2 separate regions of the Homo sapiens genome follow, and region 2 is linked to region 1. Evidence: fine-mapped expression QTL. A gene starts in region 1. The other region holds a variant in brackets. All regions are shown on one strand. Distances are from middle to middle. Region 1 holds the start of TOMM22 (translocase of outer mitochondrial membrane 22). Region 2 overlaps FAM227A (family with sequence similarity 227 member A).

Evidence for each region. PIP is the estimated chance that this variant, and not a neighbour inherited with it, causes the effect.
Region 2: its variant is fine-mapped to the expression of TOMM22 in whole blood (INTERVAL, PIP above 0.99).

The regions. Positions count from the first base shown.
Region 1 is chr22:38,679,876-38,684,269 of GRCh38, reverse strand. TOMM22 (translocase of outer mitochondrial membrane 22) reads right to left here and starts at 2,313. Exons shown (of 4, transcript NM_020243.5): 1 at 2,175-2,313; 2 at 1,829-1,947; 3 at 1,274-1,391; 4 at 1-503. The coding sequence starts at 2,291. The coding sequence ends at 429. TOMM22-DT (TOMM22 divergent transcript) reads left to right here and starts at 2,414. Exons shown (of 2, transcript XR_007068097.1): 1 at 2,414-2,544. RefSeq lists silencers at 1,970-2,019, 2,410-2,479 and enhancers at 2,210-2,279, 1,326-2,525.
Region 2 is chr22:38,595,107-38,599,500 of GRCh38, reverse strand. It overlaps FAM227A (family with sequence similarity 227 member A), which reads left to right. Exons shown (of 17, transcript NM_001013647.2): 15 at 2,145-2,297. Among named protein-coding and RNA genes, the nearest start is that of DMC1, 27 kb to the right of the region's middle. RefSeq lists a silencer at 750-950. The variant T/C (reference allele first, on the strand shown) is at 2,039.

The DNA of each region.
Region 1 (4,394 bases):
TTTGTCTGTTTCACATTGTGTGCATGTCCTGCCCCAACAACTCCATTCTTTAAAAAAAAAAAAAAAAAACAGTCGTTAATGGTCAGGGGCACATCCCTCCCACTGGCATCGGTTCCTACCCCACAAGGGGAAAGTGAGATCTTCCAGTTAGGAGCAATTTGGTGAAAGGAGTCGGGTGACCAGAGCTGGAATAACCATCTGCATGGCTGCACTCTGGTATCAGAGTGGAGACAGAAGTAAGGATAGTGTGGAGGGCACAGTTGCAAGTTGAGTCTTTCCATGAGACAATGTGGGGATAATTCTCCCCACCAGGTTTAGATAGATCAATGTGCCAAAGTTAAAAAAAAAAAAAAATCCAAATTATCAGCAGTTCAAACACTTGAATTTCAAACTTATCCCACTGAGACAGCTCAAACAGCAATAACAATCTAGATCTTTCCAGGAAGTGAGGGTAGAGCCCCTGGCATTCCTCCTGAGAGCCCTGTGTTAGGTCCTAGAAGTATCTGGAAAAGAAAAGGAGGGGTGTAAGGCATCATACAGGCCTAGAGAGCTTATTCTCACCATACCTGATGGGGCCAACGTCTACAAAAATAATACTGAAAGCACAGTCAGACAACTAAAAGAGCATGGGCCCGATCCCAATCCCCACCCACACATTAACTGTTGGTCAACTCAGGTGCTACAACAGGAGCCCTCAACCCCTGGGCTGTGGACTGGCACTGGCCCATGGCCTGTTAGGAGCTGAGCCACACAGCAGTAGATCAGCAGCAGGCAAGTGAGAGAAGCTTCATCTGTGTTTACTGCTGTTCACCATCGCTCACATTACTGCCTGAGCTCCACCTCCTGTCAGATCAGCAGCAGTGTTAGATTCTCATAGGAACACAAACCCTTGTGAACAGTGCATGCGAGGGATCTAGGTTGCAAGCTCCTTATGAAAATCTAATGCCTGATGATCTGTCACTGTCTCCCATCACCCCCAGACAGGACTGTCTAGTTGCAGGAAAACAAGCTCAGGGCTCCCACTCATTCTACGTTATAGAATTATTTCATTATATATTACAATGTAATAATAGAAATTCAGTGCACAATAAATGTAATGCACTTGAATCATCCAGAACCCCCCCCCCGACCCCCGGCCACCCCCAACCCACCATCCATGTAAAAACTGTGTTCCATGAAACCAGTCCCTGGTGCCAAAAAGGTTGGGGACCAATGTGTTAGTGAAATAACTTGCGTCTCCACCACTGGCAAAAAGCCCAAGGTCTGGGCTCACCTGCCGCTGCTGCAGTTGCTGCTGTTGCTCCATTTGCAACTTCTCCGTCTCAAAGACAACGGGAAGAACCAGGATCATAAAGGAAGTGGTCCCAATCCACAAGGCTGCCCTGGAAAACCTGCAGAGGAAAATCCCCAGAGGGTGAGCATGAAGACATGCAAACAAAACAGGCAAGAACTACCCAGTAACCAAACCTCTCACATTACATACTCCAATGTTTTTGATAAACGTATTCTACCCGCTCCTTACACCATACTCCTACCAGAGACAGGAGGAGCAGCTATGGTAGCTGTATCATCTAGTGATGGCGGTTTAACATTCTCCTGAGTTCTTACAAAGCTCCTTATTCATTAATTATCTCCAACAATCTGAAATAACCCCCACAACTCCCCTGCCAGGTAAGAATCCCCATTTTACAGAAGAGGAAACTAAGAAAGGATAGGGTACAAGCCCAAGGTCACCCAACACGGGTCTGCTGCTTCCAAACCCCGTGTTCTTTCACAGCACCACGACCATCCCATGCACGTACCCAGTGCCTTTGCCCTCGTTCCTTACCTGTACATTTTCTGAGCCACAAAGAGGGAAAGATCAAAAGTGGCTCCGGCCGCGGACCGGACCCTCTCCGGAAACATCTCCGTCAGGCCCCATAGTCTCTCCGACAGGGTCTCATCTAGCTGTGGTGGAGTAGACGCGGGTCTTAGCCGAAAAAGCGACATCCATTCCTGGCCCCGCTGCGGCACTGGGAGCCGCCGAGCCCCACTGGAGCTAGGGCACCCAGGGCCCAGCAGGGCCCCTAACCCCGCCTCCCAAAGCAGCCGCTTCGCTCCGATCCCGTACCACGCGGATCCCACACCCACGAGCGGGCCCGCTTCCCGCTCTGCACCCCGCGAGGCCCTAGTACCTCCTCATCGTCGTCCTCCTCCAGCTCCTCCTCAGGCTTCTCCGCGTCGCCTTTCGGGAGCAATTCGTCCGGGGACTGGGGTTCCCCTGCACCGGCAGCAGCGACGGCGGCAGCCATGACTGTAGGGGACACCGGAAGCGGAAAGGAGGTGAGCGCAGCCGAACGGCGGACAGAGCTGCTTTTCCGGGAGCCGAGGCGCGAGCCGGGCGAGAGCGGCGCCCTCTAGCCCCGGGTCCTCCAGTGCCCGCAGCGGGTCCGGCAGCCCTGGCCTTATCCGGGCGTCGGGGCTTCGGCGGGCATTAGCAGCAGCTGAGAGGCCTGTGAGAGGTTCTGGGGCGCCACCGCAGTCATTCTGTTCAGCGGGTATAGGGTGAGCTCAGAAACTTGCTTGTTTTTCTTTTTTTCAAATGCGTTGTTTTAATTCCAGGTAATAGAGTTCAGGGGAGAACAAAGATCAAAGGGCTGACTCTGGCAAGATTCTGGGGGCTTGTTTTACTTTAAGTTCACAGCTAAGGTAGGAGTGGCTGAGTGAAAACAACTCAAGAGATGATGAGCCACTGTATTTTTTTTTTTAACAAAAGTTTATTCTTAAATTTACAACAGGCTCCAAGACAACACTTTATTCGAGCATAGGTGGCCAAAGATGTGGCCGGGAATAGAGATGTTTAAAGACGAATGGAGTCAGGCCCACCATCACCGCAGGCCCAAGGGACAGTGGAACAGGTCGCTTTTTGTAAGATTTTAGCTTTTTGTTGTTGTTGTTGTTGTTGGTTTTGTTTTGAGACGGAGTCTCGCTCTGTCGCCCAGACTGGATGGAGTGCAGTGGTGTGATCCCGGCTCACTGCAAGCTCCGCCTCCCAGGTTCAAGCGATTCTCCTGCCTCAGCATGCACCACCAACCACGCCCCGCTAATTTTTTGTATTTTTAGTAGAGACGGGGTTTCACCATTTGGCTAGGCTGGTTTTGAACTCCTGACCTCAAGTGATCTGCCCGCCTCGGCCTCCCAAAGTGCTGGCATTACAGGCATCAGCCACCGCACCTGGCCTATATATAGTTATATATTATATATAATATATATTTTATGTGTGTGTATATATATACGTATATATGTATATATATGTATATATGTGTATATATGTATATATGTGTATATAGGTATGTGTATATATGTATATATATACATACGTATACATATATACGTATTATGTATATATACATACACACATATACACACACACACACACACACACATACATATATATATAAAGACAGGGTTTCACTGTGTTGCCTAGGCTGGTCTTGAACTCCGAGACTCAAGCAATCCGACTGCCTCAGCCTCCCCAAGTCCTAGGATTACAGGCCTATGCCACTGCGCCCCACCTTGCCGGATTTCTTAATTCGGCCTGTGACCAGGGCCAAAGATTTATCTTCCTTGTCCATCTCCTTGGCCTGCTTCTTGGGCTGTTTTAGAGAGACACTGATCCAGTTTCGTTTTCCTGAGCCATGTTTTACTTGGTAGGAATAAATTAGTGTCTTGCAGGTCTTTTGGGAAAACATCAGGTAAATCTTCCCTATGTACCAAACAAAGGTAAGAGTTAACACCTAAATACCAGGTGCTCTGGTGCCTGTGGGTGTGGGTGGGTGCGGTGTGTCCTCCTTTAATCTTCACAGCAGCTCACTGGGGTAGGCACTGTTATCCCCATTTTAGAAATGAGGAAACTGAGGCATAGTACATAGATTTCTAGTAAGTAGGTGAGCTGGTCAGAAAGTATGCAGATATAAATTTTTGTTTGAGTTTGTGTGTTTGTTTTTGAGATGGAGTCTTGCTCTGTCGCCCAGGCTGGAGTGCAGTGGCATGATCTCAGCTCACTGCAACCTCCTGGGCTCAAGCGATTCTCCCGCCTCAGCCTCCCAAGTAGCTGGGACTACAGGTGTGTGCCACCATGCCTGGCTAACTTTTTGTATTTTTAGTAGAGATGGGATTTCACCATGTCGGCCAGGCTGGTCTAAAACTCGTGACCTCAGGTGATCCACCCGCCTTGGCTTCCCAAAGTGCTGGGATTACAGGTATGAGCCACTGCTCCCAGCCTCTATCAGATGCTTTCATAATAGTACAGTAAATGGAAATGTCCTTGTCCCACACCCTCCCCAGCATTAGGTGTTATCCATCTTTTTACTTTTTGCCTATATGATGGATGTAAGTGCTTCTTTTTAAAATGT
Region 2 (4,394 bases), 85 kb after region 1:
CCAGAATGAATGTGCTAACTTGGTATTCTAACATATATTGAAACTAAATAGTGCTTCCCAGACACTCGTTGACCCCAGAGTATGTACTGACCAGGAATTTTGTTGTCCACATGTATGTTTCATCTAACACCCTCCTCAGACACATTCCTCCCTTAGACCCATCAGCATATTCCTGGCCCTGTTGCCATTTATCCTAAAGATCTAATAGAAAGCTCAGATCTCAAGAGAACAGGTGTGGTTGGCCAGGCGTGGTAGCTCACGCCTGTAATCCCAGCACTGTGAGAGCCGAGATGAGCGGATCATCTGAGGTAAGGAGTTTGAGACCAGCCTGGCCAACATGGTGAAACCCCGTCTCTACTAAAAATACAAAAAAAATTAGCTGGGCCTGGTGGTGCGTGCCTGTATAATCGCAGCTACTTGGGAGGCTGAGGCAGGAGAATCGCTTGAACCCAGGAGGCGGAGGTTGCAGTGACCCGAGATCACGCCATTGCACTGCAGCCTGGGCAGCAAGAGTAAAACTCCATCTCAAAAAAAAAAAAAAAAGAAAGAAAACAAGTGTGGCCTATATTGGTGTCCTGAGTCTTAGCAGCTTACCATAGGAGTCAGAGAACACGGGTTCTATTTGGAATCAAACTGGTCTATTGGTTCAAACACACCTGGACTCAGGAACCAACTCTACTGCAAACCGAGTGATTTGAGATAAGTTCCAGCTTCTCTCTGTGCCTCATTTTTTTCACCTGTAAAATAGGGATAAGAGTACCTGCCTCATAGGGCTATTATGCAGATTACAGACACAACAGAGATAAAGGCTAGTGCCTGGCAGATAACAAGGGCTGGGATGATCCACGTCTACATTGAGCTCCCCAACAGGAGGAGTTTCGTAATGAACTAGGAGGACTTTGCGTCTTCTGCACAGAACTGCATGTCCGCAAACTTATTTACATGTTCTATAGGGAGAGAGTAATAACAACAACTCACATTTCATAGTGTTTTATTTCTTGCAACATGTTTTCCCAAACATCACTTCATTGTTCTCTAAAGACAGTTTAGTGTAGTGGAAGGAACCTGGGTTGGGATATGCAGCCCTAGATTTGAGTCCCAGTTTAGCAACCACTGGCTTTGAGATCTTATGTGCACAGCTCGACCTCCAAGCTCAATATCTTTATCTACTCATTCCTAAAATTTGGATAGTTATACCAAACTTACAGTGTTGTGATGAGGATTAAATGGCATACAGCTGATACTACATAAATAACTACCAGGATTATGATTAACATCATCTAAAGTGGGCATTATTATCTCTGTTTTACAGATATGGAAATGGAGGCACAGAGGATGACTGCTATCTTGTCTGAGGTCCCACAGCTTGTGGCGAGTGTAGCTGAGATTCTAACCAATCAAGAAGGGGTGGAAGGAGGGCAGAGCAGAGGGAGAATTTTCTTTTTTTTTTTTTTTTTTGAGACAGAGTCTCACTCTGTTGCCTAGGCTGGAGTGCAGTGGCGCGATTTCGGCTCACCGCAACTTCCGCCTCCTGGGTTCAAGCGATTCTCCTGCCTCAGCCTCCCAAGTAGCTGGGATTACAGGCATGTGCCACCATGCCCAGCTAATTTTTTGTATTTTTAGTACAGATGGGATTTCACAGTGTTAGCCAGGATGGTCTCAATCTCCTAACCTCGTGATCCGCCTGCCTTGGCCTCCCAAAGTGCTGGGATTACACCGCGCCTGGCCAAGAATATTTTTATATACAAACGAGATGGAGAATGAGGCCTTGGGCTGAGAGAAAAGGAAAGCTGGGAGCCCTTCCTATTCACCGCTGTGATAATAGAATAAGAATTTCAGATGACAGTCTAAAAAAGTATTTCTTAGCCCTGCCTTCCATCCACAGGGGCAGAGAAGGACTTTATTCCTACGTAGAGAACGCCTGGCCACGGATAGGATGGCCTCTTCCCTCCAAAGCAGGCCATGGTCAAAGAGCAGGAGAGTCATCTCTTGCTCAGATTTCAGGTATCTTATCCAGAAACGCAGGGCATTTTCCCTG[T/C]TCTGTCCTCCATGCCCCTCTTCCCCATGCACTGCGCTCATGCCACTAATAATGCAGCGTCAACACAGTTCCACAGTACGGGGATTTCCTTGACAGCGGAAGCCACTGACTGCACCCCAACGTATACTGATGTCATCAGCGAGACCCTGTGCAGCATGAAGAAGCGGAAAGACAACCTCAATCAGTTGTACCAGCATCATTGGACTGAATGGAATTATTTTGACAAGCATCTAAAGGAGCTGCAAGACAACTTCTCCAGGTATGGAAGGGGCTTTGGGGAATGCCGTTGTTCCGCACTTATCTTTTGCAGCACACGATCATCATCATTTTTAAATGGGTTGGTGGGGCAGGGGGGTTTCCTGTAACCATCATAAGCATAATCAGCTTTCTTGTGGTCAGATTATAAACTCCTAATAACAGAGACCAGAGCTTTTTTTGTTGTTATTTTTTTTTTCTAACTACAAAAACATTATGTGTTCAATGAAAGCAAACAAAGGACCCGGAAACCACATAAAAGTACCAAGAGATACACATTGCCAACATTTTCCTATAAATCCTTCCAGTCTTTTTTTTCTGGGCCCATATATCCGTATCACTAAATAAAGTAGTGTAGAGTCATACTGTTGGTCTGTTTTTTAGACCTATTTTTTCCCACTAGCAGCATATTATGGACATTTTCCTCTGTCTTCTGCCTTTTTCAGAAATTTTATTTTACTTAGAAAAACCTTTCAGAAAGTTGATAGTACACTGAACTGTCCATCAGGATAGTACACTGAACTGTCCATCAGGATAGTACACTGAACTGTCCATCAGGCATTTGCCAAGTATTCACATTTTGCCCCATTTGCTTTCTCTCTCTAATAGCTAATCCAAATTCAGATTTCCCCAATTGTCCCCAAAATGTATTTTAATTTTTAGAGACAGGGTCCCACTCAGTCACCCGGGCTGCAGTGCAGCAGCTCAATTACAGCCTGCTGCAGCCTCAAACTCCTGGGTTCAAGTGATCCTCCTTCCTTAGCCTCCTCTGGAGTGCTGGGATTACAGACACGAGCCACTGTGCCTAACTCAGTGTGTCTTTGGCTTTACCTGCTGCTCCAGGATCCAATCAAGAATCACAAATTATATTTTGTTTTTTGTTTTTTGAGCCAGAGTCTCACTCTGTTGCCTAGGCTGGAGTGCAGTGGTGTGATCTTGGCTCACTGCAGCCTCTGCCTCCTGGGCTCAAGCAATCCTCCCGCCTCAGCCTCCCGAGTAGCTGGGACTATAGGTGTGCACCACCATGCCCGGCTAATTTTTGTGTTTTTAGTAGAGAAGGGGATTCACCATGTTGCCTGGTTGGTCTCAAACGCCTGACCTCAGGTGATCTGCCCCTGCCTCAGCCTCCCAAACTGTTGAGATTATAGGCGTGAGCCACCGTGCCTAGCCAGAAATTGTATTTAGTTTTATCTCTTTGGTGTCTTTGAATCTATAACAGTATCCTGCCCCCCCCCCCTTATTAGTTGTTTTTTTATGACATGGACTTTTTTGAAAAGCTCAAGCCACATTCTGGGTTTTTCTGATATTTCCTCAAAGTAGCATTGAATTTGTTCCAATATAGCCTATGTTTTCTGTACACTGGACATTAGGTCTATGCTAGAGGTTTGATTAGATTCAAGTTAAATCATTTTGCCCAAAATCTTTCACAGGTGATGTTGTATATTTATGTTGCATCCCATTAGGAGGCATATCATGTCAGGTTGCTCTGCTACTGGTGATGCTAAGTTTAAACACTTGGTTAAACTGGTATCTACCAGATCTCTGCATTGTAAGAGCACATGTTTGTCTTTCTAATTAGTCAGGAATAAATGATGTGATTCTCCCAGACTGTGTGAATGTGCTTCCCCAACATCTTTCACACAGTGGTTTTAGCACTCATCAGTGGTCTTTGCCTGATTAACTATTACATTTAAGGTTGCAAAATGGTGATTTTTCTACTTCTGCCATTCCTTCTACATTTATTAGCTGGCATTTTTCCATAAAGAATAGCTCACTTTCTTTTATCTTTCTTTGTCTCTCTCATGTCTTTCCTTCATGCCCCTATAACTCTTTCATGGAGCCACCCTGTCTGCAAGGGAAGCATGGGAAATATCTGGCCAAGGAGGGCGAGATTTCCACAACTGGACTGGACCTTCCATAGAACTGGGCACTTTGTTGTCCAAAACAAAATGGGATTCAGTTTACAAACGAGAAAGAGGGAATTGCTATTGGCTAGACAGCTATCCATGTCTCCCATAATAAGAGGGACAGAAAAATATGAATATGTAGATAAATACTTTGTTATGCAATATAATACAATTGGGTTTTATTTTTATTTTTA